Linked DNA regions of Homo sapiens: all the other regions are linked to region 3. Evidence: fine-mapped expression QTL. A gene starts in region 3. Each other region holds a variant in brackets. All regions are shown on one strand. Distances are from middle to middle. Region 1 has its middle 18 kb from the start of KIF5B. Region 2 overlaps LOC107984219 (a long non-coding RNA gene). Region 3 holds the start of ARHGAP12 (Rho GTPase activating protein 12). Region 4 has its middle 90 kb from the start of MACORIS. Region 5 overlaps ARHGAP12 (Rho GTPase activating protein 12).

Evidence for each region. PIP is the estimated chance that this variant, and not a neighbour inherited with it, causes the effect. A credible set is the group of variants that fine-mapping cannot tell apart.
Region 1: its variant is the best candidate, but not a certain one, in a credible set for the expression of ARHGAP12 in whole blood (TOPMed, PIP 0.84).
Region 2: its variant is the best candidate, but not a certain one, in a credible set for the expression of ARHGAP12 in whole blood (INTERVAL, PIP 0.64).
Region 4: its variant is the best candidate, but not a certain one, in a credible set for the expression of ARHGAP12 in lung (TOPMed, PIP 0.62).
Region 5: its variant is the best candidate, but not a certain one, in a credible set for the expression of ARHGAP12 in fibroblasts (GENCORD, PIP 0.57).

The regions. Positions count from the first base shown.
Region 1 is chr10:32,071,429-32,076,535 of GRCh38, forward strand. No RefSeq gene overlaps it. Among named protein-coding and RNA genes, the nearest start is that of KIF5B, 18 kb to the left of the region's middle. The variant A/G (reference allele first, on the strand shown) is at 2,121.
Region 2 is chr10:31,984,564-31,989,670 of GRCh38, forward strand. All of the region lies in intron 2 of LOC107984219 (a long non-coding RNA gene), which reads left to right. The region is part of intron 2 of LOC105376485 (a long non-coding RNA gene); the gene reads right to left. Among named protein-coding and RNA genes, the nearest start is that of ARHGAP12, 58 kb to the left of the region's middle. The variant G/A (reference allele first, on the strand shown) is at 2,738.
Region 3 is chr10:31,926,502-31,931,608 of GRCh38, forward strand. ARHGAP12 (Rho GTPase activating protein 12) reads right to left here and starts at 2,330. Exons shown (of 20, transcript NM_018287.7): 1 at 2,182-2,330. LOC107984219 (a long non-coding RNA gene) reads left to right here. Exons shown (of 3, transcript XR_001747415.2): 1 at 1-1,542; 2 at 2,161-2,321. RefSeq lists a silencer at 2,002-2,501.
Region 4 is chr10:31,794,407-31,799,513 of GRCh38, forward strand. No RefSeq gene overlaps it. Among named protein-coding and RNA genes, the nearest start is that of MACORIS, 90 kb to the left of the region's middle. The variant C/A (reference allele first, on the strand shown) is at 2,159.
Region 5 is chr10:31,880,261-31,885,367 of GRCh38, forward strand. All of the region lies in intron 3 of ARHGAP12 (Rho GTPase activating protein 12), which reads right to left. Among named protein-coding and RNA genes, the nearest start is that of ARHGAP12, 46 kb to the right of the region's middle. The variant GA/G (reference allele first, on the strand shown) is at 2,560.

The sequences.
Region 1 (5,107 bases), 140 kb after region 3:
TATGGCTTATCTAAGCAAAGACAACATGCACTCCTGTTTGTGGAAAGCATGCATTTTTGTATTAGTTGTCTATGTAATACGCAGTCTCTATAATACACAGTGATACAGAGAATATTTGTGAAGTATCCACTTTACTTTCTCTTATACTGGAGGAAAACTAAAGATCTGTACAACACTTTTATTCAGCTTATTCTTTTGACTTTTAGGATTACGTAGACTTAAAAAATGTTCGACTAACCCAGGAGGCTCAGCCTGGCCCACCAAGGAAGATCAGTGCATAGCAACTGCCTCCCTTCACATGGCTCCACCTGGTAACCCCAAGGTCTGGGCTGTTCTAGGTATTGCTCCATGTGCCCCAACAAGCCCTTATCAAGAGGGCCTGTTTCCCTTAAGAAGCAATCCCAGGAAGTGGCCTTGATCCCTCCGCCTCCCTGAGAGTGGACCCTCATCTCTCCTCGACCTCCATTTCATTTCTGGGAATTAGGGCTTAGTTTTGAAACCTTGCAAGGCTGTTTGTACTAATGCCCAAGCCCCCTTACCCCTCTCCCTGCGGGTTACACAGGGGAGACCTGAGCCTCGGCAGAAGACTCTGCTGCGAAACTTCCGAATCATTCTGCTTGCCAGAATCTTGCCAGTCACCTTCACCAGCTGACTGACCCAAGTTTAGGACTATTGCTATTGTTTGTTTAAAAACCACATATACAAAACTCTTGTGAATATTATTTTTATGCTGGAGAGGAAGGCACATCTCCCTCTATGGCTCTGCGCTGGGGCCTACAGTAGTAAAGTTTACTGTCCTTTTTTGCCTCCCCTGGAAATGACAGGCATTACTCTTCTATTGGTTTCCCTTCTCTTTATGGAAAGACCAAGCAGGCTCCACTGGCCAACAGGTACGGTATTTGGTCGTCTGAGTTCTCAGTAATTTGGAAAGTTAAGGGGTTGGTTCCTGTGTCACCTTTCAGTTAGTGTGGGAAAGGAAGACTCCTGTTTTCTGAGATCAGTGCAGTCTCAGGCCTTTGGCAGGGCTCACGGATCAGAGCTGAGACTGGAGGGAGAGGCATTTGGGGTGGCCTGGGAGGGTGACTGGGGGCAGCAGAACCAAAGAAGGCAAGGTGTTTCCCCTAAGCTGGGTCGTGTGTTCAGGTGTGACGTACAGGATCACCTATGCACTGCCCTTGATGATCAAGGTTGGGGCTTAAGTGGATTAGGGAGGCAGGTTCTGGATTCCTTGCCTTTTCAGAGCATGAGGTCAGCTCTGTATGCCTCCTTTTCCTAGCTGGTATTCTAACTAGAAGCATTTGTCAATTCCTTTGTCTCCCAAATGACAACACACATTCATTTTCCAACCTTCCTAACATCTTAAATCTTTCTTCCGGGAGAACTAGAAGATAGAATTTGCTTTGATTCTCTCAGGCACTGTGCACAAGCCAGGTCTTCTGTTTTCTGTTACTGTACCCACATTCTTGCCTTCTCTATCCAACTGTGAAAGGTGAGGGGAGGCCCCTGTCCCCCTCTCTTAAGGTCCCCAAACCTGGGAGCGCATAGGTACTAAATCAAGCAGTGCAATTTGTAATTAACCAGCTGCAGTGTTTACATGTTTCTTAATGTGTCATCTTTTCAATGGCTGTATGTTAAAAGAAGAACATTTGTTTTAATAGTCTCTCGATTAAAGGAAGCCCCTGTGGCTTTGGAGGCATTGTGCCCATGATCCACCAAAAAAAAAATGTTCAACTATACTAAAATGTATATACCAATGTTTATCATACAATGGAACAAAACACACTTTAGCAGTCAAAATGGAAACTCTAAGTGCAGTATCTATAATTTAAATGCAGCCTTTTCATTTTATGAGTGGTGTGCTGAGAATAAGCACATGACTTACCAGAATCAAAGTACAATGTGTGTCCTGACAACAAAATCATCAAATCAATATGTGAAAGTAGTTCAAAGTATCGGTTGCCGAATTTGATTCCCTGTGAAATAACTTGCTCTCCTTTTTCAGGGCTATAAGGAAAATGTACGTGAGATCTGGCTAAACTCATGGAAGAAATTTTTGCTATCTCTTTATGCACACACGCTCTTTCACGCAAACATATATATAATATATGTAACATTTATAC[A/G]TACATCTATAATGCATATATATGTGATGTATATTATATGTATATACAATGAACTTGGATCAATCATTTATTTCTACATCATTATTTCTCCCCCACCCCAAATCCTGCTCACCCATCCCATTTGTTACAGATTTAGAAAGCGCAAACAGCTACAGACTTTGTTCCTGCAAGTCCAAAGTTATAAGCAAGTCTTCAAGGGAGCTCTGTCAGCCCTGAATGAAGTCTAGGACAACCTCATAGCACTTATCATTAAGTTTGCTTATTTGCAACCAGCAGTCAGTGTGACAGTTGCTTTAGCTCAGCTAAGGAGGAACAGGGAAGTGGACAGATTCCAGACTCAGCTGCTTGGCTCTTTCCTACAATGCCTGGCAACAGCACAGATCACAGGAATCCTACAACCCACAGCATATCTTCCAGGACTAAGGTCTTCATTAATATATTCTTCATTTGACCATTTGACAAGTATTTATTGACCACCTACTAAACACCATGCCCTGGGATTATAATAGGAGGAAAAATAGATCTAGACTCTGCTGTCATGGAACTTAGAGTTCAATGGAAAACACTAGACTGTAAGGCTAATTGGGATAGAAATCTAATTTTTTTTAAATGAACAGACTTCAGCACCATTTATTAAATCATTCATTATTTCTCCCATCCAAGTACTATTTCTCAAAACTTTATGATTCTACTGTCATACAACAAGATTCCATATATTCATGGGTGTGTTTCTGGACTTCTGAGATGAAAGCTTCGAAGATTCTATTAATCTATTTATATATGCCTTCACCATATAAATTTAAAAATTTACAGCAAAGTTGAATTTTATAGTGATCACCTGTATACCTGCTGCCTAGATTCTACAATTAACACTTCACTATCCTTTCTTTATCATGTATTCACCCAGCTATTTATTGCTCTTTACATCCATTGATTCACCTTTTTATGGTGCCTTTCCAATTAAATTGCAGACATCAATACACTTTTCCCTAAATATAACACTATACTTTAAAAATTATAATTTCACAGTAAGTTTATAGTGTTACTGTTATCCCAAATGAATTTTTCAATTATATAGCTCAGAAAATTTGATACTTAATTTCCTATTAAGATGTTGAAAAGTGAAAAAAAAACACAAAACTGGGACCTCAAAGGCTTGCTTGTATGGTGAGGGGAAAATGCAGCAGAGACTCCTCTCAAGCCTGGGGGTCTCCATTCTAGGCCAAAGGGAAAGAAAGGAGCTCAGATAACTCTACCCTGATTATCTGGATCCTGGGATCCTTACAATTGTGAGAAACTGAACAATTTCAAACACTCCACTTCATGTTACCAGAAAGGGAGACTTAGATTTTTCTGTGAGAGCAGGCTGTTCCTTTCTTTCTTGGTTTTTGGAAAAACAGGATGGTAGATTTTTTGGTAAGAAAGATTCTATTTTGTAATAAAAAGATCCAACAAAATGAGGGGTTATGCTGTTCTGCATAGTATTTCAAACATTTGTCTTCATTGCAGGAGCTATATTCCTGTAAATTGATTTCTTTAGGATAATATTTCTTTCTTAAATATGGCTTTGCTCTTTGCTGTCTTTGAAAATTATTGATTATTCTTATAGATGTATATGTGTATTGTGTGTTTTCTTGTTTAAAGATCAAAGGAGCCAGGAGCGGTGGCTCACGCCTGTAATCTCAGCACTTTGGGAGGCTGAGGCGGGTGGATCACGAGATCAGGAGTTAGAGACCAGCCTGGCCAACATGGTGAAACCCCATCTCTACTAAAAATACATAAATTAGCCCGGCAGGCATGGTGGTGGGTGGCTGTAATCCCAGCTACTTGGGAGGCTGAGGCGGGAGAATCGCTTGAACCCGGGAGGCAGAGGTTGCAGTGAGCCGAGATCGTGCCGTAGCACCCCAGCCTAGGTGACAAAAGCAAGACTCCATCTCAAAAAAAAAAAAAATCAAAGGACCTGGCACATAATAAGTACTCAATAAAAGTTAATCATTATTAATAATAAAAATATTAGACTTCTATCAGTCATATAGGATGAAGGTTCAGATGATTTATACTTCAGCATAAAGGGAAATGAAATCTCACACGGTAAGGACATCAGGTAGGCTGGGCAAGGTGGCTCATGCCTGTAATCCCAGCACTTTGGGAAGTCTAAGCAGGAAGATTCCTTGATCCCAGGAGTTTAAAATCGACCTGGGCAGCATAGAGAGGCCTGTATCAAAAATGAACAAAAACCAAACCAAACAAAAAGATATCAGGTATATCTGAGATACATATCATTACAAAATATTATTATTGTGCCTTCTTATTATTGTGATTATTTAATTTTCCAGAGAAATAAATGCAAACTAGTGGGAAATTATCTTCCCTTTATCATGTATCCTGACAGCTATCACTCATTCTATCCATACATTGATCCACCTTCTTTTTGGTGCATTTCTAATTAAATTACAGACATCAGTACACTTTTCCCTAATAACATTATACTTTTAAAATTATTGTAATGTCATGGTAAGTTTTTTTGTTTTGTTTTGTTTTGTTTTTTTGAGATGGAGTCTGACTCTGTTGCCCAGGCTGGAGGGCAGTGGCGGCTCACTGCAACCTCCACCTCCTGGGTTCAAGTGATTCTCCTGCCTCAGCCTCCCCAGTAGCTGGGATTACAGGCATGTGCACCACCACATCCAGGTCATTTTATATATATATATATTTTGTTGTTGTTGTTGTTTTTTGAGACGGGGGTCTTGCTATGTTGTGCAGTCTGGTCTGGAACTCCTGGCCTCAAGCGATCCTCCTGCCTCAGCCTCCCAAAGTGCTGAGATTACAGGCGTGAGCCACTGCCCCTGGCCTTTAAGTGTCTTTCATATTTGGATAAAATGACTGGTGGCTAGAGGACCCTAAAAAGACAAAACTAGGGGGTTGGAACTTGCAGCCTCATTCCTCAACTTCCAAGGAGGGGAGAAAGGCTGAAGGTCAAGTTGATCACC
Region 2 (5,107 bases), 58 kb after region 3:
TTTTTTTTTGAGACAGAGTCTCGCTCTGTTGCCCAGGCTGGAGTGCAGTGGCACGATCTTGGCTTACTGTAACCTCTGCCTACCAGATTCAAGCGATTCTCCTGCCTCAGCCTCCCGAGTAGCTGGGATTACAGGCATGTGCCACCACGCCCAGCTAATTTTTTGTATTTTTAGTAGAGATGGGGTTTCACCGTGTTAGCCAGAATGGTCTCGATCTCCTGACCTCGTGATCCACCCACCTCTGCCTCTCAAAGTGCTGAAATTACAGGTGTGAGCCACCGCGCCTGGCCCACAAAGCTAAATTTTAAATTGAAGCTTTTTTGAATAATTAAATCAAAAGCCTTATAAAACAATTGTGTTTCTGCCATTACATTATAGGGAAATGGATGGGCATATTTTCACCAAATGTAGATATATAATGGGGTGATCTGACTTGAAATATAGATTATGTGTTGTACAAAGAGTACATTTTGGCCAGATGCATCGCTGTAATCTCAGCACTTTGGGAGGCCAAGGGGAAAGGATCGCTTGAATCAGTAATTTCAGACCAGCCTGGGCAACATAGTGAGACTCCATCTCTACAAAAAATTTAAAAAATTAAAAATTGAAAATAATTCATTTTGGGGGATTATAGGGAAATCAAGGGAGATGGGCAATCCTCCTTTGGAGCAGCTGAACCTGAGGGTCAAATTGAGGCCCTCAGGGTGCCCATTGGGTCAGAGGGGACTGCGCACATGGTATGAATACTAGCTAAGGCCTTGGAGTGCTGTGAAGACTAATGACATTATCTGTGTAAAGTGCTGACCTCAATGACCAGCACACTCACTTATTCAATTATTTATCAAATTTTTATTGAGTGGCTACTGTGTACCAGATACTCTGCCAGGTGCCGGGGGTACTGCAGTGAACAAAACAGACAGCAGTCTCAAACCTCTCAGGGTTTACATTCTCCTAACACACAGTAAACCATCATAAAAGGTAGCCAGCATTATACTATAATACAAAATATGGGAAAACTAAAAACCATGATAGCTTTTTTCACCAGCTAAACTGGCAAAGATTCTGATGAAGATAATCCCTAGCAGGTATGGGCCAAGAGTATAGGCACTTTTTTTTTTTTTTTTGAATTTTTGTTTGAGACAGGGTCTTGCTTTGTCACCCAGGCTGAGTGCAGTGGCGTGATCGTGGCTCACTGTAGACTTGACGTCCCAGGCTCAAGCAATCCCCCCACCTCCTCCTCCCAAGTAGCTGGGACTACAGGTGCATACCAGCATGCCCAGCTCATTTTTTAGTTTTTGTAGAAACGGGTTTTTGCCATATTGCCCAGGCTAATCTCAAACTTCCTGGGCTCAAGCGATCCTCCAGCTTCACCCTCCCAAAGTGCTGGGATTATAGACATGAGCCACCTTGCCCAGGCAAAAATAGGTACTTTACTCTATTTCTGGGGGCAGTGTAAATTGGTGCAAACTTTCTGGAGGGCAGGTTGACAGCATGTATTAAATGCTTTTACTCCCTCAATTCCACTTCTGACTTATTGTAAGGAAATATTCATGGATTACTCAATAATATCTACTTGGGAAGGAAGTTAAGATGCTCAGAGCCGAGCTCCCCAGTTAGACAAGTCTGAGTTCACACTAAAGCGGGTTCTGCCATCTACTTGCAGTGTGACCCTCAGGTGAATTAGGGGCATCAGCACTGCATGATCTTAGGCGAATTGTTCCCAGCCTCCATGCAGCACGCTCCTCATCTGTAACATGGACATGATAATAGCATTTACCTTACAGGGCTATTGTGAGAAGTAAATGAGATAATGTAGAAAACACTTTAGTGTAGTGCCTGATGCATGGTAAGATTTCAATATACTTAAGCAAAAGAAAAAAAAAAGTATATGTTCATCCCAGCAGTATTTACAGTGATAAAAAGTAAAATAGAAAGTACCTAAGTGATTTAAAATAAATACAGAGAAAAAATTCCATACCACCACTAAAAATCATGTTGCAGATGAATAGTTAATGATATGGAAAATGATCACAATATATTGTTAGGTGAAAAAAAATTGATTATAGCCTGGGCACAGTGGCTCATGCCTGTATTCCCAGCACTTTGGGAGGCCAAGGTGGGAGGATTGCTCGAATCCATGAGTTTTAAGACCAGCCTGGGCAACATAGGGAGACCCCCTATCTCTCCAAAAATAATTTTTTTTTTAATTAGCCAGGCATGATGGCACATGCCTGTAGTCCCAGCTACTCTGAAGCAGAGGATTGCTTGAGCTGGGGAGGTAGAGGATGCAGTGAGCCTTGATCACATGGCTACACTCCAGCCTGGGCAATAGAGCAAGACTCCATCTCAAAAAAAATAAAATAACATTTTAAAAGGTGGTTACAAAGAATATGTACAAAACAAGAGAAGTGAAGGACCTCTTCCAGGAGAACTACAAACCACTGCTCAAGGAAACAAACAAATGGAAAAACATTCCATGCTCATGGATAAGAAGAATCAATATGGTGAAAATGGCCATACTGCCCAAAGTAATCTATAGGTTCAATGCTATTCCCATCAAACTACCATTAATATTCTTCACAGAATTAGAAAAAAAGACTTTAAATTTCATATGAAACCAAAAAAGAGCCTGTATAGCCAAGATAATCCTAAGCAAAAAGAACAAAGGTGGAGACATCATGCTACCTGACTTCAAACTATACTACAAGGCTACTGTAACCAAAACAGCATGGTACTG[G/A]TACAAAAACAGACACATAGACCAATGGAACAGAATCTGCAACCATCTGATCTTCAACCAACCTGATAAAAACAAGCAGTGAGGAAAGGATTCCCTATTTAATAAATGATGCTGGGAAAACTGGCTAGCCATATGCAGAAAATTGACACTGGACCCCTTTCCTACACCTTATACACAAATGAACTCAAGATGGATTAAAGACTTAAATATAAAACCCAAAACTATAAAAACCCTAAAATAAAATCTAGGCAATACCATTCAGGACATAGGCACAGGCAAAGATTCATGACAAAAACATCAAAAGCAATTGAAACAAAAGCAAAAATTGACAAATGGGATCTAATTAAACTAGCGGGCTTCTGCACAGCAAAAGAAACTACCATCAGAGTGAATAAACATCCTAAGGAATGGGAGAAAAATTTTGCAATCTGTCCAACTGACAAAGGTCTAATATCCAGAATCTATAAGGAACTTAAATAAATGTACAAGTAAAAACCAAACCAAACGACCCCATTAAAAAGTGGTCAAAGGACATGAACAGACACTTCTCAAAAGAAGACATTTATGTGGCCAACAAACATATGAAAAAAAGCTCAATATCACTGATCATTAGAGAAATGCAAATCAAAACCACAATAAGATAGCATCTCACATCAGTCAGATGTGAGTCAAGAAACAACAGATGCTGGTGAGGCTGTGGAGAAATAGGAATGCTTTTACATTGTTGGTGGGAATGTAAATTAGTTCAACCATTTTGGAAGACTGTGGCAATTCCTCAAAGACCTAGAACCAGAAATACTATTTGACCCAACAATCCTATTACTGGGCATATACCTAAAGGTATATAAATCATTCTATTATAAAGATACATGTACACATATGTTCATTGCAGCACTATTCACAATAGCAAAGACATAGGATCAACCCAAATACCCATCAATGATAGACTGGATAAAGAAAACGTGGTACATATACACCGTGGAATACTATACAGCCATAAAAATGAACGAGATCATGTCCTTTGCAGGGACATGGATGAAACTGGAAGCCATTATCCTCAGCAAACTAACACAGCAACAGAAAACCAAACACCGCATGTTCTCACTTATAAGTGGGAGTTGAACAATGAGAACACATGGACACAGGGGGAACAACACACACTGGGGCCTGTTGGCGGGGTGAGGAGGGAGAGCATCAGGATAAATAGCTAATGATGCACGTGGGGCTTAATACCTAGGTGATGGGTGGATGGGTGCAGCAAACCACCATGGCACATGTTTACCTATGTAACAAACCTGCATGTCCTGCACATGTATCCCAGAACTTTAAATTAAATTTAAAAAAAAGAATATGGCCAGGCACGGTGGCTCACGCCTGTAATCCCAACACTTTGGGAGGCCAAGGTGGGTGGATCACCTGAGGTCAGGAGTTCGAGACCAGCCTGGCCAACATGGTGAAACCCCATCTCTACTAAAAATAGAAAAATTAGCTGGGTGTGGTGGTGGGCACCTGTAATCCCAGCTACTCAGGAGGCTGAGGTAGGAGAATCGCTTGACCCTGGGAGGTGGAGGTTGCAGTGAGCCGAGATAGCACCACTGCACTCCAGCCCGGGCAACAGAATAAGACCCTGTCTCAAAAATAAATAAATAAATAAAATAAAAAGAATATGTACAATATCCCAATTTTAGAAAAAAATACAGGAAGGCGCTATACTATGTATTTTCCACAATAAGCATGCATTATTTTGTGCTTTTGTGCTTTATACATATTATTTATAGCAGACGTATATTAGGTTTTGCACGTCCAGCATCAGCCCACTTCCTTCTAACATCCTGGTTTTCTTATGTGGAATAATCCATTCCCCTCTGCCAGAAAGGCGATTTTTGGCTTCCACATCTCATATCCACCTCTCACTTACGGAAGCCACAAGGCTTTGATCCCAGAGGCTGTGCTACAAGAATGGTGGATATTTTGGAGGGCATTGTTAGCATCCTGGCAGCACTGTGGGTGGGGAGTGGGTGGGGTTGGTAATGTGACTCTGCTGACAGTGTCCCATCCTCTGGGACTTCCTTGGTCCTTGCCCTTTCCCAAGCCTGGTCATTGTCCTCCCACTGTGTTCATGAGCCCCTCTTAACCTGTCAATAAATCCTTTTCTGCTTAAGTTAGCCAGAATCTTTTTCTGTTGCACACAACCAAAAACTTTTACTAACAAGTTACTTTTAAAAACTGGAAAATGAATAAAGCAAGCCGTAGCAGCTATGGAGCCATTCTTTGCCGGAATAGTCTAAACCCAGGTGAGCCTGAGATGGCTCAGAGGAAATGCTAAATGACCGGGCTGCAAAATATCTGGTTGGAAACTAGAAAAATGCA
Region 3 (5,107 bases):
AAATACAGGACAAAAGTTTAATTTCACTTTTCTCTCCCATGATTTATTGTAAAACTGTGATGCCCATTTTCTCAGGTAAGTAAAATATTAGTACTACTGTTTAATGGTTAAACAGATCACCACTATTTAGTTTTTACTCCATTTAAAAATTTTAATCACCCGTATTATTTTCAGTAATATCACTTACGTAGAGTACTTAAAAATTTGTAAAGTTCACTTTCTATCAGCCTACTAAAAAACCACTGAGCAGATTCTTTCTAATTAAAGAAAAGTCAAATGATTAACTACAAGTAACATGCTGTTTTTCTACAGCACTTAATCTATTTTCATTTGCACCTCGAAACAACTGGTATTAGCAAATATAAAACCGAAAGAGATGCAATGTATTGATAATTATATATGAACAACTAATATATATATAACTAACTATACAGACGGCATTATCTTAACAATCAATGAGTCATCAGTCTTCTCCAGCTTGATGAAGTACGAACAGAAATCTATCAACAAATATTGGCGCATAAATATACATACACACATTATATTACACTTCTGGGGTTTCTTTTTCCCCCACAGAGAAACACTTTTAGAACAGTGGAGCCGCATGCAACCAGGGGTCGCACATATGTGCGCAGACGGTCTGGCTCGTCAGGTGGCATGGGTGGGGGTCACGCTTTCACTGCCTGCTTTGGGCTCTCAAAACCCAGCTCTGAAACGTTTCCAAGGCAAAATAAAAATAGCCAAAATGCCTATTCAGACCAGAGGAGGTAGAGGAAGATGACCGATTCTGTAAAACACCCTCCTACAGATAAAGAAAAGGCGATATGGGCAAGTACACACACATCTAGGCCATCGTTCCCGACTTTTAAGTATGAAAGAGGCGTGGCTAGGGGCTAGATACTTATTTTTAACACTTCCATTGAAACACCCGGAGTCTCCCAAGGTCTAACCTCTAGAAGTCGGGTGGCAGAACCTGAATCAGAACCCGAGTGAGCCTTCCTTCCTCCACCACCTCCCTTTAGGAACGCATGCCTAAATAGTCGATAAAATCTACTTCTCAATGTCATGATTAACCCAAAAGCCAGCCACAACCAATCGTGTTATTAGAGTGCTAAAAGCCTCTATCCACAACAAACACTCCACTTGGGATGACATTAAAACTTTCGATAAAGGTGTACTTTCAACGTCGTGCTTTAGCCTTTGAAAATACATTTACAAAACTGCAGCTGCAGTCAAAAGGAAAACATCACACGCCTCGAAAGCTGAAGGGCGTGCCTTTTTCTCTAACGAAGACCGTGTGGCCATTTCTTCTCAAAGGGTCTGCAGTCACTTAAGATAGCAACGCGTAAAGGACAGCCGTTCTGAGAAGACAACCAGCTCCCCTGAGATGGGAGGCGGGCTGCACGCTGGTAAAGAGGATTTTTCAATTCAAGGACTTTGAGGAGATTCCGCCCAGATAAGCTGGAGGGGAGCGAATGCACGTCCATCCAGCAGGGGCAGGGCACCGGGAAAGACCGCAAAGAAGAAAGTGTCCGGTTTAAGGTCAACAGTCCTCGAGGGACGCCCCAGGTGGATTCCCCGGGTGGGCTCCCCGGGTGGGTGGAGGCCTGCAAGCCCCACCGCGATTAGGGAGTGGGCCCAGGGCGCGGGAGGGGCCGGGCCGGCCTTTTGCGCACACACACACACACACACACACACCCGCCTTTTGCAGACACACGCGCGCGCACACACCCGCCTTTTGCACATAGACACGCACACACCCGCCTTGTGCACACACGCGCGCACTCTCCCGCACTCACACACACACCCGCGCACCCTCACACTCTCCTCCCTGGGGGCGGGGCGGGCGGGCGCTGCCCTCACACAGGAAGTCAGGAAACCCAGGGGGCAGAGAAGCCACAACTTCGGGCCATTTAAACCCTCTCGCCCACGTCAGCCAATAGGCTGCGCCGGCCCCCTCCCCCTCGGCGCCTAACCCCCGCGCCCAGAGCCCCTCGCTGCGCGCCCGACCTCCCTTTGCGCGCACCTCCGCGGCGCCGCCGCCGCCGCCGCCGCGCCTCCCGCACACGCCTCCCCCCGACTCCACCGCCCTCGGCGGGCACAGCCCGGCCCCGGCGCGCCTTTGTGCAGCGCCTCGCCAACCTGCCCTCCGTCCGCCAGGACCCGCGCCCTGCACCTCACCGGGAGCCCGGCGGCCTCGCAGCAGGCGGCTCCCTTCTTAGTCCGCCCCGCGGCTGCGGGTCGACGACGCGAGCCCGAAGAGCGTTCACACGGCTACGGCCGCGGCCGGCCCGTCCCCGCAGGCTGGCCTCTGAGGGAGGGTAAGTTACAGGGCACGTCGGAGCGCGCCGGCGCGGGGGCGGGGCTCACGTGACGCGCGGGGGCGGGGCGGGAGGCTCACGTGATGGCCCGGGCGAGCTGGGCGGGCGCGGGTCTCCGGGACGGTCTGGGGTGGCTAGGGGGTGCGGCGCCCGGCGGGGATCCGAATAGGGGGCAGCCAGCGTACGGTGTGGGAACTCGGGCCGGCGCGGGAGCCTGCGGTCAAGGGGGCTCAGCACTTTGTAAACAAGGAGTGGGAAGCGTTAAAAAAACGCTCGTAGGGAAAACCAGGGAAGGGCGGACATAGCGCCAGGGTGGCAGGAATGGAGCCCGGGCAAAGACGGCCCTGCCGTGGGCCCTAGCGCTCCCTTCGTCGGCCCCTGGAGCTGCGGCCGGGCGTGGGTCAGTCGTTCACGGGCCCGGAAATTCCACTGGGACACCCGAAAAAGTGCTGCACGCCGCCTGAGGGAGACGGAAAGGGACCCGGGGCACTGAGTCCATTGCTGGGGTCGCCAGGGTACGTGGCAGGACCCGCTGTGCACACTCGGGACTGAGGAGACCCCTGGGACGCGGAGAGCCGCTCCAGGGCAGAACCAGTCCGTCAGCATTTAGCCTTCCACGGGCCTGAGGGTGCGAGCCCTGCGGGGGCCACAGGGTCATTGTCCAAAGTCATCCCCGTTTGCACTGTGGCAGCACCGAACCCGGAAGTAACAGCTTTGGCAGGTCTTTGATGGTGATCCAGTGGCAGGAGGAGCTCAGCTGGAATGGGAATCAGGAAAGAGACCTGGCTTCTGCCATTTATTGGCACTTCACCCTTCTGAACCTCAGCTTTCAAATGAGAGCTGGCTTCTAGGTCTAGAATACAGTGAGTGTGAGAAAAATAACTGAGAGGCGTTGGGACTTCAGTAACTACTCATTCCTTAACCAGTTGTTGATTGTGCCTGTTGTGCCAGGATGAAATATTTGTTAATAATAGAGACCAGAAAGGAGAGGGGGGAAAAAACAAGCATATGTATGATTCAAGCAATGAAGAGCTACTCTCCGGAGTTGGCTCTTTCCTGTGCTTCACTTCGTACTTGAAGATGCCACAATGCCTGGCTTCCTTATCAACCAGCTGAACTCCGAATTGTGCCTTACAGGATGCGAAGAATCCGGTAGGGCAGTGGCAAGACTTTAACAGCTGTGGTTTACAACCTTCTTATTAAATTAAGTCTAATGCGAGCTAAAGTGTTAAGATAGTCTCCATTTAGAAAGGAAAGAGGCTTACAATGAGAATTTTTGAAAAATAAGCCTGAGACTGTGCTGTCTCTATCGTTGCATTTGCTTTTCACAGTCCTTGGCACCCACTGCCTTTTTGTCTCCCTCGGTTTCTAACCCGTTCTGTTTTCTTGCATTTGTTCAGTATAAGGAGTATTTCCTGTATGCTTTGGCAACTATTTTCCATAGACTCTGCTTGTGTTCTCCTTATAAAACCAGAACAAGAGCAGTGCAAAAAAGAAAACGACCCTGATAGGAATGCGCTGATAACCTTACTTTCCCTACTCTCCAAACCTGAATTGGGCACCCTTGGTTTTAGCAAGAGATAGAACTCAACAGTTTGCATACACTTGCGGATCTGCCTGTAACCCCACTTCCTATTTCACAGCCTAATCTCGGATGATACCACAATGCCCACAGTATGCTGATCACCACCAACAGCAGATGGAGGCGGATAAAAAGAGCTTTCTCGCTAGTGTGTTGTTTTAAAAGAACCTGATGGAGAGCTATGATCATATGTAACACTGCCTCTAGTTAGTTTTTAAATAACACTTGTAGCATATGTCTGGCGCCTGTGCTCAGGATTTCAACAGATCATTTTCAGGATTTTGACATTTAACTGGCTTCTTATGAAGTAGCAGAGAGTTCCAAAATGTAGAACTGAAATATAAGCTCCACACACAGGCAGAGATTTGAGTCTGATTTGTTTGTGTGTATATCCCAAGTGCCTAAAAGCACTTGGCATACGGTAGATGCACAATAGATTCCTGTTAAATGTATTTTTAGGTGAAAATGTAGTCTGTACTTTGCATAAACTTGTCCTACTTTCTTCCTAGTTCTTTAATAAGTAACCTACTTTTCATTATATATTTTTAAATGAAAAAACAAAATTATATCTGGCATCACTACTTTGGCTGGGCTATAAAGAAACAGGAATTTGGCAGTATGTATTAAAATTACAAATGCATATATACTCGGAGCCTTGAATTTCATTTCCAGGGATTTATGCCACAGATGTTTCCACACATAAGAAATAACAAGGTGTTTCTTATTGTTGAGAATAGCAAAAGATTGGAAACAAGCTAAGTATCTATCAACAGGATACTAGTTAAATTATGATAGAGCCATATGTTTGAACATTGTGCAGCTGTTAATCAAAAAAACAGAAAGTTCTTTGTTTTAACATTAAGATCTCCAAGATTTTTTTGTTAAGTGAAAAACACAGAAATACGGTACAGAATATTGTATTAAATTGTATATGCATTAAACTAGGACAAAGTAACATGAGGTATGAGAACACAGTAGATGGAAAGCATAAGAAATAGACTTCATTGTATTCATATTTAAACTTTTTGATATTCAAAATTTCAGAATGTTTTATCTATTCAAATAGTGAAAATGTTTAAAATTTTTCTGGCATCTTTTTGTTGTTGTTGTTGTTATTAAAACATTCAGGCTTCTTCTGTTTTATAAAAGTTTACCTGAGTAAAATAAACATATCAAGGAGGCTGGGTGCAGTGGCTCATGCCTA
Region 4 (5,107 bases), 130 kb before region 3:
TTGTGAGCCACATTGCTTAATCGTCCCAGTTCTGTCATCTGCAGATTTTTATGCTTTAAGTCATTAATAAAGTTTTAATACCATGGTATTAAGACAAAGTCTTGGACCACTCAATTATTCTCATAGTATACCACCAAGCCACTTATCAACACTCTCAACAGTTATTTGACAGCTGTGTATTTCTTTAAAAGTACCAGAAGCTGAAGTTTTTATCTCCTTATCCGTAAGATATTATGTGCAATTTTGCCACAGGCTTTGCTGAATCTAAGATTGGATATGTAGCATACTTTCCATTGAGCAAACCTTTTTTCTATACTGGAAAAAAAGTATTCACCTTGATGCTTCTGAATATTTCCTCTATTATTTACCAAACATCATTGACACATGCTCTGGGATTCCATCTGCAATTTCTTCAAGAAGCAGAAACATACTAAAATGTAGTTGGCCTCGCCCTGGAGACAGATGCATTGAAAACTTTTCATTTCTTTCCATAGCTGTTCTTTGCTTTTTTATCCCATCTCTACATTATTTATTTTATCCTTCCCTGTTTTAAGATAATTCTGGCTGGGGACAGTGGCTCACGCCTGTAATCCCAGCACTTTGGGAGGATGAGGTGGGTGGAAAATTTGAGGCCAGGAGTTCGAGACCAGACTGGGCAACATGGTGAAACGTTGTCTCTACTAAAAATAGAAAAATTAGCCGGGTGTGATGGCTGGCTCCTATAATCCCAGCTACTTGGGAGGCTGAGGCAGGAGAATCACTTGAACCCCGGAGGCAGAGGTTGCAGTGAGCAGATATCATGCCACTGCACTCCAGCCTGGGCAACAGAGTGAGACTCTGTCTTAAAAAATAAAATAAAATAAAATATAAAATAAAATAAAATAAAATTCTGCTCATTGGAGATGTAGCATTTCTCATACTTCTGGATCTGAATATAATTTAATGGCATTCTTTGTTGACTAGCATTTTCTGAAAGTTCACTAGGAATTTTAACCTTCCTAATATTTTTATAAACTTTTACTCTTTTATGATCAGTTTATGTGCTCCACACAGTCAACTTTAGTTCATCCCTTGGAATCTGTGTTCACCAGAGGTCTTCCTATGCAAGCATACCAGTTATTTCAGTTTCTGTCTCTTCCCACTTGGCCTTTCATTATTTGTATACAGTTGTCCCTCAACATTTGTTGGAGATTGGTTCCAGGACCCAATCTGCAGATGCCCAAGTCCCTTATATAAAATAATGTATCTGCCTATAACCTAGTCACATCCTCTGTACATCTGTATATGTTAAATCATCTCTAGATTGCTTATAATACTTAATACAAGTAAATGTTATATAGTTGTTATAGCATATTCTTATTTGTGTCATTTTTATGGTTGTATGGTTATTTTTGCTATTTAAAAAATATTTTCCATCCTTGGTTGGTTGAAACTGCCAATGTGTAATCTAAGGAGGGTCGTCTGTACTTGAAATCTCACTTTTTCCAAATAATTCAGTTTAACCTCTTGAGCCATAAGAATTTTCACTGAGTTTGCTGAAATCAGACTCCATGCATGGTTGACTAAATCCCATATTTCATTTCCTTGCCATTATGAACTGTAAGATACAGGAATCACTGTCTCCCAGGCATCCTGTCATTCCCAGACCACCAACTAGCTCTTTATTTATTAAAATAATGCACACAGCTACTCCCCCTCTGAAAACATAAACAAGGTGGGACTCAATTCCAGGACTCAACTTTTAGCAGATGTCAGGATGGTTGAAGGCCCTTAACCCTACAGGTCATTTCTGTGTATGTTGTTGTTATAATATAATCCGTACTAAGCAAACATCATCCAAATCTTTCCAAATAGGTGAGTGTTATCATATAATTATCCTAAGTGTCACATATTTCCTTTTAGCAACACTTAAACGCTCATCATTCTCCTAATCCATAGATTTATGGATTTCTTTATAGATGAATGTCTTATTTAGGTATCACACAACTTGTCTTTCCTATTCAATCTACTTCATTTGGACCTAATGGATCGATGGCCATTTTATGGTTATAAATTCTGCATGTTCGTTTTGTAACCTCTGCTGCATCTATGGGATATTTAATTTCTAACAAGACATGATGTTCATTCTATTTTTTCAATGCTCTGCCTTTCATAGATA[C/A]CTGGAAGTAAAATATTGGGCCCAAACAGCCTTTATTGTAAAGATGACTTCTGTGTATTGCATAGTGCTTCTGTTACATAAGTTCTTTCAGTTCAGTGATGGCCTTTCTTGGCATATATAATTTAACTCATCTTTAAAATTTAAGTCATCTTGATCAGTTTACTTTCCTGCCAAACATTTGGTCTTTAGAAACATTATCCCTTCGCAGGGACCAGCATCGTGTTATTGCCATACTACTAATAAAAACAACTAACATTTATTACATGCCATGTTTCCAGGGGTGAGCTGGTAAATGTTTAACAACTGGCACAAAATCCACACACATACATAAGTGTATAATAAATGTAGCTAATATAAATAAAATAGATAATACTCCTTATTGCTAATTCCACATAACCAATTTATTCACAAAGTATCTTTTTATTTTTCCCAAATTCTTCTATCTCTAGCCATCCTGTGATTGCAATTGGTTCACAAGTGTAATCTGGCATGAATGTTGGTTGATATTTTTATTTACATTAACAAATAAGACAAAAGACAATCAACACATGTCAGAACTTCACTGATTTGTCCATGATATATCTGGCTTCTTTGCTGAATCAGATCATAGTTTTTGAACACTGGAAGAATATTTCCTCAATTTCTTGTGTTGTTCACCATGTAACAGCTACAGACACATTTTAAATTTTAATCTGCATTAACATTTTCCCCATCACCTTTTTAAGTCTAGACAAATTGACCAAACAGTAAACCATCCCTGATTTGGTCTAAATACTGCCACTACCAAACTGCCAATTTCAAACCACCTTGATGTCACTAACGTAGAACTGGGAAAAAGTGTAAAGTACACCATTGTATAGTATTTCCACCACACAGGTACCTTAATATCTGTGAAATAACCTTAAAAGCAGAGATAATAGTAAAATATGATAAAATAATAAAGAATTAAGTTTTGACTATTTCATTGGTTTTAAATGATGCCCAAGTCTCAGCTGAAATAAAATAATAGGCAAGTTTATGGAGCTCCTCTCCAATCCTTTCTTTTCCTTACAGTGTTATTTGTTGAGAAAGCCAGACCCTTTGACAAGTTGTTTCTCGGTCTGAGTCTTCTTGATTTCATAGGCAGGATGTAGCTCTCCATCCTTTATATTTTCTGGAAGCTACATTCAAAGCCTGATTCAGATTTAAGGTTCAATTGCTTTGACAAGACCATAAGAGGTCTTGTTTTCTTCCATCAGGAAGCATGTAATATCTAGTTCTCTTTTGATGATGCTAGCAGCCATTGATGCTTAATACACAGATTTATTAAATCAATGGGGAGTATAAAGTGGATGATAATAATTTCAATTATTAGTTGGAAACTTTTTATTTATTTATTTATTTTGAGGCGGAGTCTCGCTCTGTCACCCAGACTGGAGTGCAGTGGCGCGATCTCGGCTCACTGCAAGCTCCGGCCTCCCGGGTTCACGCCATTCTCCTGCCTCAGTCTCCCGAGTAGCTGGGACTACAGGCGCCCACCACCAGGCCCAGCTAATTTTTTGTATTTTTAGTAGAGACAGGGTTTCACCGTGTTAGCCAGGATGGTCTCAATCTCCTGACCTCGTGATCCGACCGCCTGGGCCTCCCAAAGTGCTGGGATTACAGGCGTGAGCCACCACGCCCGGCCGGAAACTTTTATATAGAGGTACTTCCCCTCATCTGCCATATGGATACTTAGTGGTCAAGTGCATACAGGATAGGCCAAATAAATGTTTGATTCTTTCTCTTTATCATCAGTTTTCAAGAAGATATGAATTTATTCCCTCTCATCCTCCTCTTTTGATATTATTAATTCATGGGTGTAAACATATCAGTGAGTTTCAATTCATTGCCAACTATTATTATTGAAGCTCCAACTGTCCATTTTTGGCCAGTGGGAACTTCAAGTCGCCTCCAGAATTCTTTTGACAAGATCCTGCTAACATTTGATCACTTCCTTGCTATGACAATTCTTTCAGGATCATCTCCCACGTTTCCCGCTCCACACCTGGAATCAGCCATATCTCCAAAATGCCTTGGTTTCTTTTAATGAGAAATTCTATTTCAAGGTCAAAACCCAGGTGCTAAGGATGCTCCCCCAGTTGGTCATTCTTGTTACACCTTTTCAGTGATCAGTTACATACATGAACACATAGACACATAGATTAAATATCTCATGACATCATATTGATACTCCCAATTCAAATTAAAGACCACAAAGTTTTTACTTTAACTTACCACCTTGTTCCATTCTTAGAAACCTGATTGCCAAGGACTCGAGACGATAGAATTAAAATATCCAATATGTACTCATTTGTTTAATCATATGCTACATACACACCAGGCAGAATACCACCAATATGACTGTTGAAAACATTAAATTTTCGCCTATGTTTTCCTCATTATTCCATTGTAAATGGTACTAAGTCTTCATTTGTCAGTGTTTATAGTCATTAAGGACTCTATTTTCTCCTTGCTGGCCCTCACTTCATCTTATTTCTGTAAGCAATTAAATATTTAATGCGCAACATCAAGTCTCATGTTGCTATCTCTAAGACATTTTGGTACTCTGAAACTCATTCTGCAGTAGATTCTTAAAGAAGGGCTCTCTTCCCAACCTCTTATTCAGTGGGAGATATTTCAGTACTACCCATTATTTAAAACAGCAATCTCACATTGTGTGATACTGCTTTCATGGAACCTAATGCCAACTGAATATGCTACAGGCATTGGCAAGAGTGGTAAGATCGACAGGGAGGTCCAGTCACTGTTACTGGCAATGTTCAGGCAATCAATTTGGCTAATATTAACAGGTCAGGAGACAAGGGCATGACCAGAGACAGCAGTCATTACATGTAGCTAGATGTCAGAAATGTCACATCAGATCTGGTTCCCTAACAAGCAGGTTGAATTCAGGTTACCCCTGCAGTC
Region 5 (5,107 bases), 46 kb before region 3:
TGAAAAAATGTAATGGTGCTCTTAAAGTCCCTAGTTCAAGTTGGGTATTCAAAAATCTTTCATTTTGCCCAGGTGCAATGTCTCATGCCTGTAATCCCAACACTTTCGGAGGCCAGGACAGGAGGACTGCTTGAGCCCAGGAGTTTGAGACCAGGCTAGACAACACAGTGAAACCCCATCTCTATAGAAAAACAAACAAACAACAACAATAACAAAAAAAAACACTTTTGTTTAATTTAATGGGTTCAAACATTTCTGAAACAAAAAGAATAAGATTCTACTTTTGAATGCCCTGTCTTGTTATGGTCTCAGAAAAATGTTTACCTAGGAAACACAGCCTAATAATATCACTTCATGTAATATAACTAAATGTACATAAGTTATCTGTATCAAACTATCCCCAGCAATTATTAATAAGTTCCACCTTTAATACTTCAATCAGGTCAACAATTGTATTTCTATAAATTTTATATTCATATATTCACTTAAGTAAATTATACTTCTTAAATATTAAAACAAGTTCTGGCCGGGAGTGGTGGCTCATGCCTGTAGTCCCAGCACTTTGGGAGGCTGAGACAGCTTGAGCTCTGGGAGTTCAAGGCCAGCCTGGGCAACGTGGCAAAGCTTTGACTCTACCAAAAAAAAAAAAAAAATTAGCCAGGTGTGGTGGCACACACCTGTGGTCCCAGCTACTCAGGAGGCTGAGGTGGAAGGATTACTTGAGCTCAAGAGGGCAAGGCTGCAGTGAACCAAGTTGCAGTGACCTCAATTCCCCCCACCTTCCCCTCCTCCATCTCTATCCCCCTCAGGCTCAGGTGATTCTCCTACCTCAGCCTCCTGAGTGTCTGAGACTACAACAAGGATATGCCCATGCTGTATGAGTTCCTTAAAAAAAAAAGAAAAAAAGAAAAAAAACTTACCACATCAGTTTTCCATCAGAATATTAAAAGTGACAAAGGACTAACCATCAAATATAATATACATGTAATGGGCAGTATCATGTTAAAAAAAAACAAAAACTTGCCTAAAGCAGTAACATTATACTCACAGGCTGAAAAACAGGAATAAATGTCCTGGGCCCACAGACACATAAGAGGCCAACACGGAACACACACAAAAAAAACATAAAATATCAATTCTAAAGCAATATGCAAAGTATACATTTATTTTAAGACTTTTTGCTTACTGCCTTAAAAGTCTGAAAATATCTTTTGAGGGGTCTCGAATAGAAGTCCACAAAGTTTTGAACATTTTATTGCAATGAAATTTCCTTTAGCAACAACAGAAACAATAAACTGTTAAGATTTATTAAGCATTTACTCTAAGCACTTGACTGACTTATCTTGCCAATCATCTCAATACCCTAGAGTTTAACTATTCCTCTCCATGAGGAAGTTGTTAACTAAGATTCAAAACCAGGAAGGTCTATTTAATTCCAAAGTCCAGACTATTACTCACTATCCATATTGTCCCTACCAAATACTACAAGTATTAGTAATCATTTCTTAGAGCTGTGTTTAAAAAATACTTTTGTTACCACAGTGTAAAATATATTCATAACTAGCATATTAAGAATACTGTAAGTGTTCACAGAATAGGAGAAATAAGTGTTTCAAATTTAAAAAAACAGGAAAAACAAAATTTTTGTTTAGATGTTTTTTTTTTTTTTTTTGAGACGGAGTCTCGCTCTGTCGCCCAGGCTGGAGTGCAGTGGCTGGATCTCGGCTCACTGCAAGCTCCGCCTCCCGGGTTCACGCCATTCTCCTGCCTCAGCCTCCCAAGTAGCTGGGACTACAGGCGCCCGCCACTACGCCCGGCTAATTTTTTGTATTTTTAGTAGAGACGGGGTTTCACCGTTTTAGCCGGGATGGTCTCGATCTCCTGACCTCGTGATCCGCCCGCCTCGGCCTCCCAAAGTGCTAGATGTTTTTATATCAGATGAAAATAAACTAAGAATAAACATCTATGTTTAAAATATTTTAGTAGCCAGAGCCTACCTAACCAAATTGCTACCTGGGATTTTCCAATATTTCCATTTTAGTGGAGTTTAGCAACTGATATCTAATGGTGTAATTACTTTTTGTCCCCAAAAGTAATGTTGATGACCTGGAGACATTCCACACTAATATAATAAGGAGAACTAAGTAAAAAATCATGACTGAAAAAGTCAAATTTTTCAAAGAAAGGGCCAATAAACTTTTATGTTACTTTGCTAATGCTGGAGAGTGGAACAAAATGCACAAAACTATGAGCTCTTTAAGAGTAGAAACTAGGCTGGGTGCAGAGGCTCACACCTGTAATCCCAGCACTTTGGGAGGCTGAGGCAGGCAAATCATGAGGTCAGGAGTTTGAGACCAGCCTAGCCAACATGGTGAAACCCTGTCCCTACTAAAAATACAAAAACTACGTGGGCGTGGTGGCACGTGCCTGTAATCCCAGCTACTTGGGAGGCTGAGGCAGGAGAATTGTGTGAACTTGGGAGGTGGAAGCTGCAGTGAGCTGAGATCACACCACTGCACTCCAGCCTGGGAAACAGAGCAAGACTCTGTCTCTTAAAAA[GA/G]AAAAAAAAAAAAAAAACAGAAACTAGGCAAGACTTTGCATTTTATCTAGCACACTGAAAGCTTCTAGTAAGTGGCAAATGTAAAACAGATACTAGATATCCCTCTTACTAAGGAAAATTCAATGGGGCAAAAAATTCTGTCCCTCAAGAAAACTGATTAAGGTTTCTCTGCATTAAGAAATATCTACTCTTGGGCCGGGCACAGTGGCTCACACCTGTAATCCCAGCACTTTGGGAGGCCGAGGCAGGTGGATTATCTGAGGTCGGGAGTTTGAGACCAGCCTGATCAACATGGAGAAACCCCATCTCTACTAAAAATACAAAACTAGCCAGGCGTGGTGGCACATGCCTGTAATCCCAGCTACTCCGGAGGCTGAGGCAGGAGAATCACTTGAACCTGGGAGGCGGAGGTTGTGGTGAGTTGAGATTGCGCCATTGCACTCCAGCCTGGGCAACAAGAGCAAAACTCCATTTCAAAAAAAAAGAAATACCTACTCTTTTAAGACTTACATTAATTATCCCCTTGCCTAAATTTGCTTCAAATTTTAGTTCAACTAACTAAATAGATAAAAGGTGAGAAATGGTGTCAATTCATCTTAAAGTATTGAAAACAGTTCTCACTAGGTTATCTCTCACACTGCATAACATGCTTGAAGAACTAACATAGTAGAGGTATTTTTAAGCTTTCCATTTTCCAACTTCAGCACAAAAATATTTAAAACAGTCTGACCAGAAACTACAGGAAATCTTTCCTTCCTCTTTCCATCCTTACCGGAGACATAAGTCTCACTTCTTGTCATTCCCATTTTTGCACATTCAAGGTTTTCACAACTTGAAACTGAGTATTTTCATACTGTGCTTTCCTTTCAGGAATGTGACCTCATGTAAAATACTTTTTTTTTTTTTTTTGAGACAACGTATTGCTCTGTCACCCAGGCTGGAGTTCAGTGGCGTGATCTCAGCTCACTGCAACCTCTGCATCCTGGGCTCAAGTGATCCTCCCAGCTCAGCTTCCCAGGTAGATGGAACTACAGGCACAAGCCCCAATGCCCAGCTAATTTTTTTTGTATTTTTTATAGAGAAAGGGTTTTGCCATGTTGCCCAGGTTGGTGTTGAACTCCTGAGCTCAAGTAATCCACCCACGTCAGCTTCCCAAAGTGCTGGGGCTACAGGCATGAGCCACTACGCCTGGCCTAAACTTTTTGTAAGCCAAAAAAAGTTCCAATAAGTGAATATTAGCATAGTTTATAACATGGCATTATATGTTTACACCTAAAAAAAAAAAAAAAAAAAGAATTTAATTCTACGTATGGTTAAAAGACCACTTCTTTCCAAACTGACATAAATTTTCACAAAGAATTCATCTGTGTGAGTTCATATCTATTGATATTTAGTATTAGAAAACAAAACTAAAAAATTCTTAAATTATGTATTAGTTCATTTAAAAATAAGCCTGTTACATATTAACATATGTTTTTATGAAAAAGTGATTAATCTCCCCTCCAAAAAAAAAAACGGCACAGTTTTACATTTTTACAAATCTCTTTATTGCCTGGATTCTCACATCTGCTTCTACATTCAATATTTTGCAATTTTTTTTTGGTTGAAGTACATAAACAATGGCCTTATAGATATGTCGGACAAGGAAGAAATACTTTACAGCCTTTTCATATTATTGTGAACATTCTTCTCAGACACTCCACCAAAACTTGACAAGTGGCAGTTTCTTAAAGATGAGTTGCAATGTGGAATCTAAAAATCATAACAATTAACTCTTTGTACTTTCTCACATTAAAACCCACTTGTCTACCTTGCACTGTGAATGGCTCTCTTACCCACTGTACACTGGTCACTTGAGGAACATTCATTCACTGAGTTACGCTTATCTTCCAAATGTTGAAACATTTCATTACACAACATTAAGAACAAACAACAAAACAAAAACTTTAATATCACCACTGCTTTCATGAAGAGTCTTGAGATTGAGAAGCTGTAAGCTCATGACAACAAATCTAAGTTTTCAAAATTCTAATCTCCAGTTGAGCTCAAAAAACTCACCATGTCATTTCTTCATAAATTTTTAAAAAGCTTGAATTTTATCATATGCAATAAAAATCAATTATTTTCTTATTTTTTTTTAATTTTGGGGGTACATGGTAGGTGTGTATATTTATAGAGTACATGAGATGTTTTGATACAGGTGTACAATGTAAAATAAGCACATCCTGGAGAGCAGGGTGTCCATTCCCTCAAGCAAAAATTGACAATTTTCTTTAAAGTGATAGGCTTACTTCTGTTCATTTTTGAGAAAATGTCTAATGTCCTAGTATGAATAATCAGTTTGTCATTCTTTCAAGTAAAATTTACCAATCAAACAAGAGCAACAAAATTTTAATGTAATCATTTTTAGTAGTTTTTAAAAGGTATAACTACTTCCTTGACTTCTTAACCTGGGAACAGGAAACTATTTTTTCAATGTAAAAATAAAGTATCTCTTTACCTTAGAAAGCAGCTGTGAAGAAAACACACGTTAAGTATCTATCCAGT